Linked DNA regions of Homo sapiens. Each later gene encodes a partner of the first gene's protein in a complex. Each region holds a gene or a part of one and is shown in the gene's direction. Other genes may lie near its edges.

Region 1 (3,745 bases):
AGCGGTGATACCCCAACCAGTACTCCCCACTCCTACCCCTAGATAAGGTCAGCCTGTTTCTGCCTTCCCATCCCATCCAGCACCTCTCAGGCCTTCAGATGTGCCCTATGGGGTCCCCTGCTGCTACTCATTCTGTCTCTGTTTTTCCAGAGATGCTGGAGGCCAGGACAGCTGGGCACATGCAGACTCTGGCTGACTTCAGGCAGCTGCCTGCCCGGACTCTCTCTACCCACTGGCCACGTGAGTTTTCTCCTTAATCCCCACCGCTAGAGAGAATGCATACACGAGGGGCCAGGAGGGAAGCCAGACAGAAAGCTCCTAGGATTAGGGATAAGAGGAGGGGAAAAAGCAGAGTCCACTGTTTAGGAGAGGAGTTGGCCAACGGTGGCGGGTGGGATAGAATAAGGTGGGGGAAAGGGGAGAGGCAAGGTGACAGGAGGGCTGGGCTGAGGGAGCCAAGGGCTAGACCCTCCCCTAACCCCTGTGTGTCCCCTCCTATTACAGCCCAAAGATCCCTGTGCAGCTCCGATTTTATTCGCATCCTTGTGATCTTCTCTGGAATGTTCCTTGTTTTCACCCTGGCCGGGGCCCTGTTCCTCCATCAACGAAGGAAATATAGATCAAGTAAGAGACAGAACACAGGCCTCCGGTCCTGCCCCTGCACCACACCCCACTGGCTCAACCCCACTGCCCACGCCTGGAATCTCACTGAAACCCACCAGCTCCACTTCACCAGCCTTGGTCCTACCCCTTCTCTCCCCTTAGCTGGCGTGCTCCTGACACCCCTCCCCCAAGCGCACCCGCCTCTACCCATCTCCTTCTCCCGTCTCCCCCTGCCCCCACTGCTGGCCAAGACTCATCGGATCTCCTTCTGCAGACAAAGGAGAAAGTCCTGTGGAGCCTGCAGAGCCTTGTCATTACAGCTGCCCCAGGGAGGAGGAGGGCAGCACCATCCCCATCCAGGAGGATTACCGAAAACCGGAGCCTGCCTGCTCCCCCTGAGCCAGCACCTGCGGGAGCTGCACTACAGCCCTGGCCTCCACCCCCACCCCGCCGACCATCCAAGGGAGAGTGAGACCTGGCAGCCACAACTGCAGTCCCATCCTCTTGTCAGGGCCCTTTCCTGTGTACACGTGACAGAGTGCCTTTTCGAGACTGGCAGGGACGAGGACAAATATGGATGAGGTGGAGAGTGGGAAGCAGGAGCCCAGCCAGCTGCGCCTGCGCTGCAGGAGGGCGGGGGCTCTGGTTGTAAAACACACTTCCTGCTGCGAAAGACCCACATGCTACAAGACGGGCAAAATAAAGTGACAGATGACCACCCTGCAGCTCTCCAGCTTCCTCTCTGAAATCCCAGTCCCAAAATCCAGTTTCCTGGCCGCCTCCTGGCTCAGGTCAGGATCTGGCAGAGGAGGTTTCTCAGCCGGTTATGTTGGGGCCTGCTTAAGGGCGGGGGTGAGAAAGGTCCCCAGGCTACTGTGGATCCTGTGTCTGACTTCAGATCCCCTTTTCCCACAGTTATAGCTCCACTTTTTTGGGACAGGTGGGGAGCAAAAGGGTGCAGAGGTCAGGTCTTGAAATCACCAGGGGATTTCCGGGTGAGGTGGGTGGTGAGAAAGGAAACAGCAAGCAGGGCTCTGGCAGCTGCTGCAGACGGCTTCACACAGGGACGCGGGCTGCCATCTTGCTCTAAGTGAAAGTGAAAGAAAAGTCGGCAGCAGAGGGAACAGGGAAGAAACCTAAAGGCTGCAGGCTGCCAGGTGTGCTTGGAGAGCCCCCTTCTTCCGCCGGGCCTCGCAAGCAGCGTAGGACTGTGGAGAAGGGCGGTGGGCAAGGAGGGAACTCGAGAGCAGCCTCCATGGGCACACAGGAGGGCTGGTGCCTGCTGCTCTGCCTGGCTCTATCTGGAGCAGCAGAAACCAGTGAGTCTGGGAGTCGGGGAGAGCTGGCTGGGAGAAGAGCTACTGAAGCCCCAGGGTGCCACCCTCCCCGAGATTCCAGAAGAGCAAAGGGGCCGGGGATGACCCCATCGCCTTCTAAGCCCAACAGGGGAAAGGCTCAGCGGCTGGCAAAGGAAGGAACCAATAGTGTGTGTGGAGGGAGGGTGGGGACTCCACAGGGAAAATGCTAAAGAGGGGCTGCCTCTGTGGCTGTGGTCAGGAGCCACTGTCCTACAGAGAGGGCACTGGCCTGGGAGCTGACACTTCAGAAGAGGAAAGGACTCCCCAGGTGAGGAAATCACTTGGAAGGTGACCTTGAAGGCGGGGGAGGGGAAGGCTACCCGAAATGGGAGAAAGCAGTGCAGGCTGTCAGTGCCCCAGCAACAGTAACTGTCCAGTCTCCTCTCTCTGCGGTGGCACTTGCTTGTTTTCTGAGAATTCCTTTGACTGAAAAGATAGTCTTTTATTCAACAGTTGGAAATGCAAGCATAAACTCCTCTGAGCAAGGCAAATCCAGGACTTTAACTCTCACCAAGAAGTATTTGCCTGGACTAGCAGGTGCTCTCCAGAAAGCTGGTTTGGGGATGACGGGAGAATAGAGGGACACAGAAACAGCTAGGATCTTGGATGGCAACTTTTACCCTTTGATGACTCCACAGCTTGAGGGCGGGGGCAGGAAGCAAGTGTGGAGTAGCTTTCTGGGGAAGGCGGTGCTCACCCCAGCCTTTGTCTGCAGAGCCCCACCCAGCAGAGGGGCAGTGGCGGGCAGTGGACGTGGTCCTAGACTGCTTCCTGGCGAAGGACGGTGCGCACCGTGGAGCTCTCGCCAGCAGTGAGGACAGGGCAAGGGCCTCCCTTGTGCTGAAGCAGGTGCCAGTGCTGGACGATGGCTCCCTGGAGGACTTCACCGATTTCCAAGGGGGCACACTGGCCCAAGATGACCCACCTATTATCTTTGAGGCCTCAGGTAAAAGCCTTCCACCTGTGTCCTTGGTCCTCCCGGGCTCCCTCCACCAGGACAGCCCAGGTCCCGATTACAGCCACACATACTGCCTCCCGTTGGCCCTGGTGTTCTCACGCTAATTTGCCCTCTGTGTGTGCCCTGCTTCTCCCCAGTGGACCTGGTCCAGATTCCCCAGGCCGAGGCCTTGCTCCATGCTGACTGCAGTGGGAAGGAGGTGACCTGTGAGATCTCCCGCTACTTTCTCCAGATGACAGAGACCACTGTTAAGACAGCAGCTTGGTTCATGGCCAACATGCAGGTCTCTGGAGGGGGACCTAGCATCTCCTTGGTGATGAAGACTCCCAGGGTCACCAAGAATGAGGCGCTCTGGCACCCGACGCTGAACTTGCCACTGAGCCCCCAGGGGACTGTGCGAACTGCAGGTAAGAAAATGAAAAGCAAGGCCAGGTGTGGTGGCTCACGCCTGTAATTCCAGAATTTTGGGATACCGAGGTCGGTGGATCACCTGAGGTCAGGAGTTTGAGATCAGCCTGGTCAACACGGTGAAACCCCGTCTCTACTAATACCAAAATTAGCCGGGCATGGTGGCGGGTGCCTGTAATCCCAGCTACGAGGGAGGCTGAGGCAGGAGAATCGCTTGAACCCGGAAGGCAGAGGTTGCGGTGAGCCGAGATCACACCATGGCACTTCAGCCTGGGCAACAAGAGCGAAACTCCATCTCAAAAAAAAAAAAGAAAAGAAAAGAAAAGCAAGTCACAGAAAGTTTTGCTTTTCTAAAGTGGTAAGATATGGGGCACAGAAGAAGAAAGGGAACAAATCCACCTCCATCCACACTGGTCAC
Region 2 (3,745 bases), on another chromosome or scaffold:
TAGAGAAAAGAAAAATATAAACAAACTTGTAGCACAGAAGCTAATCCAACTATTTTGTGAGCTGATTTTTTTTTTTTGTCTGATCTTTTTTTTTTTTTTTTTTTTGAGACAGAGTCTCACTCTGTCGCCCAGGCTGGAGTGCAGTGGCGTGATCTTGGCTCACTGCAAGCTCCGCCTCCCGGGTTCACACCATTCTCCTGCCTCAGCCTCCCAAGTAGCTGGGACTACAGGTGCCTGCCACAACGCCTGGCTAATTTTTTGTATTTTTAGTAGAGACGGGGTTTCACCATGTTAGCCAGGTTGGTCTCGATCTCCTGACCTCATGATCCGCCCGCGTCGGCCTCCCAAAGTGCTGGGATTACAGGCGTGAGCCACTGCGCCCGGCCTGATCTTTTTTCTTAACTATATGCTTATAAATGAGGAGGAAGGAATGAATATCATTAAGTGGTATTCACCCTTGCAAGATTCTCTATAGTGGCAAGGGCCAGGTTAGAAGATCTGAATGTAGGGGAGGTCCTAAAGGTGATGGCAGCAGCAGGGTGGGCAATCTGGAAAGACTGGGGAAGTGTTGTGTAGTACAGCTCTTAGACACAGGCAAGAGAAGCCCCTGGATATGGCCCCACATTCAGAGAGCCCCACTCTGGCCCTCTGCTACCCACATCCTTTCCCACAGAGCGAGGAGTGCGTGAGGCTGAGGGGAGGTGGTAACCCTGTGTCTGGGCCCCTCCACTCTAGACCAGACTCCAGGCACCCAGGAACCTGGAGTTCCCCACTCAGCTGACTCAGAGCTGCTGAGGTTTACACAACAAACTCGCACTTTGGCCCATCCTCCTAAAGGTGGACTGGCTGCCCTTGAGGGCCTTGCTAGGCCTGAGGGGTGGCCAAGAGGTGGGAGGATCACTTAAGCCCAGGACAAGCTCAGACAAGAGGCAGTTTGTGGCTGAGCCTGAATAAAAAAGTAGAGGTGTTTAATTGTGGGAGGCCCTTGGCAGTGCTGGAAGGAGCAAGAAACAGGAAGAAAAAGAGGTGAGTCTCAGGCTGAGGGCCGGGGACTGGAGGGAGACACCAGCTTTCTCTGTGCCGCCCCATTCAGGCCCAGAACTTCACACAGTGTGAGATTTTTTAATTTGAACTTGGTCTTCGAAGCCATACAAAGGGCAATCTCTCAAGGTGGGGGGATAGAACATATTTCAAGTTTGTTAGATTGATTTATTCCTTTTAAATATCTGGATCTCTGGTATGTGAGCCTCCATCTGTCATCTCAATTTAGCCATGAAATTTTAGGGATGATCCTGTTTTAGGGATGAAATGTTTTTGGAGGTGGGTTTTGAGGACTGGGAAGGATTTAGATGGGTCAGAATGGCAGGAGATAACAGGACAAAAGGCTTGGACATGGGCATCTGCAGACACCGGCAGGCAGAGTAGGGGAAGAAAGCCATTGTGGCTGCATACCTTCTATTTGCCAGCTTTTGGGGATGGCATGGGGTACGTAGCCTTCTCAGCCTGGGCTCCACCTCCCAGGCATCGCCTCTGCCCGTGACGCCTGTCACTGTGCTCCAGACGTCCCAGGCCATTTGGTTCCCATGCACGCCCCGCCTTCTCGAACCTCCTGCTTGCACATGTGGTCTCTGCCCTGCTCCCCCTGCCCGCCCTCCTGCATCCCCTCCCAGCCCCTCTGCCTACTCACCTCCTACCTGTCCCTGAGACCTCCCTAAGACATCACCTTCTCTGGAAGTCTCTCCTAAGGGCCCACACCAGCTTGGATCCCATAACACTGAGAGGTGACAGCGTGCTGGCAGTCCTCACAGCCCTAGCTCGCTCTTGGCGCCTCCGCTGCCTGGGCTCCCACTTTGGCGGCACTTGAGGAGCCCTTCAGCCCACCGCTGCACTGTGGGAGCCCCTTTCTGGGCTGGCCAAAGCCGGAGCCCGCTCCCGCAGCTTGCAGGGAGGTGTGGAGGGAGAGGCGCGAGCGGGAACCCGGGCTGCGGGCGGCGCTTGCGGGCCAGCTGGAGTTCCAAGTGGGCGTGGGCTTGGCGGGCCCTGCACTGGGGGCAGCCGGCCCTGCCGGCCCGGGCAATGAGGGGCTTAGCACCCGGGCCAGCGGCTGCGGAGGGTGTACTGGGTCCCCCAGAAGTGCCAGCCCACCAGCGCTGCAGCTCGATTTCTCGCCGGGCCTTAGCTGCCTTCCTGCGGGGCAGGGCTTGGGGACCTGCAGCCCGCCATGCCTGAGCCTCCCACCCCCTCCATGGGCCTCTGTGCGGCCCGAGCCTCCCCGATGAGCGCCACCCCTGCTCCACGGCGCCAGTCCCATGACCACCCAAGGGCTGAGGAGTGCGGGCGCACGGCGCGGGAATGGCAGGCAGCTCCACCTGCAGCCCCAGTGGGGGATCCACTGGGTGAAGCCAGCTGGGCTCCTGAGTCTGGTGGGGACGTGGAGAACCTTTATGTCTAGCTAAGGGATTGTAAATACACCAATCGGCACTCTGTATCTAGCTCAAGGTTTGTAAACACCAATCAGCACCCTGTGTCTAGCTCAGGGTTTGTGACTGCACCAATCGACACTCTGCATCTAGCTACTCTGGTGGGGACTTGGAGAACCTTTGTGTGGACACTGTATCTAGCTAATCTGGTGGGGACGTGGAGAACCTTTGTGTCTAGCTGAGGGATGGTAAACGCACCAATCAGTGCCCTGTCAAAACAGACCACTGGGCTCTACCAATCAGCAGGATGTGGGTGGGGCCAGATAAGAGAATAAAAGCAGGCTGCCCGAGCCAGCAGTGGCAACCGTCTCGGGTCCGCTTCCACACTGTGGAAGCTTTGTTGTTTCGCTCTTTGCAATAAATCCTGCTGCTGCTCACTCTTTGGGTCCACACTGCCTTTATGAGCTGTGACACTCATGGCGAAGGTCTGCAGCTTCACTCCTGAAGCCAGCGAGACCACGAGCCCACCAGGAGGAACGAACAACTCCAGACGCACCGCCTTTAGAGCTGTAACACTCACTGCGAAGGTCTGCAGCTTCACTCCTGAGCCAGCGAGAGCACCAACCCAACAGAAAGAAGAAACTCCAAACACATCCGAACATCAGAAGGAAAAAACTCCAGACGCGCCACCTTAAGAGCTGTAACACTCACCGCGAGGGTCCACGGCTTCATTCTTGAAGTCAGTGACACCAAGAACCCACCAATTGCGGACACACCACCACCCATAATGCCACCTTGAAACCACTTTGTCTCCGTCAGGCCCTAAGCTTCTTGGACAAGCGGAGAGAAGTTCAATGTGGGAACAGCAGGGAGGGCCAAACAGTTTTGTTTCATTTTGGTTTACTTTTAACCCTTATTACAATCCTTATAACTAGTAAGTAGAAAAAGAATAAGAAAATGGTTAACAGCAGTGGTTTGACATAATAGGAAAAGCACTGTGCTTTAAAAAAAAAAAAAATTTCGGCCGGCCATGGTGGCTCACACCTGTAATCCCAGCAATTTGGGAGGCCGAGGTGGGCAGATCATGAGGTCAGGAATTCGAGACCAGCCTGACTAACATGGCAAAACCCTGTTTTTACTAAAAATACAAAAATTAGCCAGGCATGCTGGCACATACCTGTAATCTCAGCTACTCAGTAGGCTGAGGCAGGAGAATCACTTGAACCCAGGAGGCAGAGGTTGCAGTGAGCCAAGGTCACGCCACTGCACTCCAGCCTGGGCAACAGAGTGAGACTCTGTCTCAAAAAAATAAATAAATAGGCTGG

Evidence for each region. Proteins that work in one complex are often made in the same cells at the same time.
Region 2: the proteins of TAPBPL (region 1) and MR1 are in contact, whole or in part, in an NMR structure (PDB 7RNO), measured with the Homo sapiens proteins. Residues at the interface, in NP_060479.3 of Homo sapiens: His47 (codon at 2,751), Arg48 (codon at 2,754), Gly49 (codon at 2,757), Ala50 (codon at 2,760), Ala52 (codon at 2,766), Ser53 (codon at 2,769), Ser54 (codon at 2,772), Leu129 (codon at 3,146), Met131 (codon at 3,152), Thr132 (codon at 3,155), Glu133 (codon at 3,158), Thr135 (codon at 3,164), Arg228, Gln230, Lys232, Gly233, Arg234, Gly235, Thr280, Ile282, Gln293, Ile295, Gln297, Arg307, Leu308, Ser309, Ile320, Cys321, Asp322, Leu355; in NP_001372090.1 of Homo sapiens: Arg101, Arg104, His105, Asn107, Thr129, Gly130, Phe131, Leu132, Gln133, Ile143, Phe144, Asn145, Asp147, Thr148, Leu152, Ala153, Val154, His159, Thr160, Lys162, Gln163, Ala164, Ala167, Asn168, Gln169, His170, Thr213, Phe214, Pro215, Asp248.

What each region holds. Positions count from the first base shown.
Region 1 is NC_000012.12:6,450,391-6,454,135, forward strand, and holds the start of TAPBPL (tapasin-related protein isoform 1 precursor), read left to right. Parts: upstream 1-1,651; 5' UTR 1,652-1,858; coding exon 1,859-1,922; intron 1,923-2,160; exon of another isoform or gene 2,161-2,229; intron 2,230-2,676; coding exon 2,677-2,907; intron 2,908-3,056; coding exon 3,057-3,326; intron 3,327-3,745. Other genes in the region: CD27 antigen, read left to right, coding at 151-240, 505-624, 766-1,184. UniProt on the Homo sapiens protein: Component of the antigen processing and presentation pathway, which binds to MHC class I coupled with beta2-microglobulin/B2M. Association between TAPBPR and MHC class I occurs in the absence of a functional peptide-loading complex (PLC).
Region 2 is NC_000001.11:181,043,877-181,047,621, forward strand, and holds part of MR1 (major histocompatibility complex class I-related protein 1 isoform 1 precursor), read left to right. Parts: intron 1-3,745. UniProt on the Homo sapiens protein: Antigen-presenting molecule specialized in displaying microbial pyrimidine-based metabolites to alpha-beta T cell receptors (TCR) on innate-type mucosal-associated invariant T (MAIT) cells.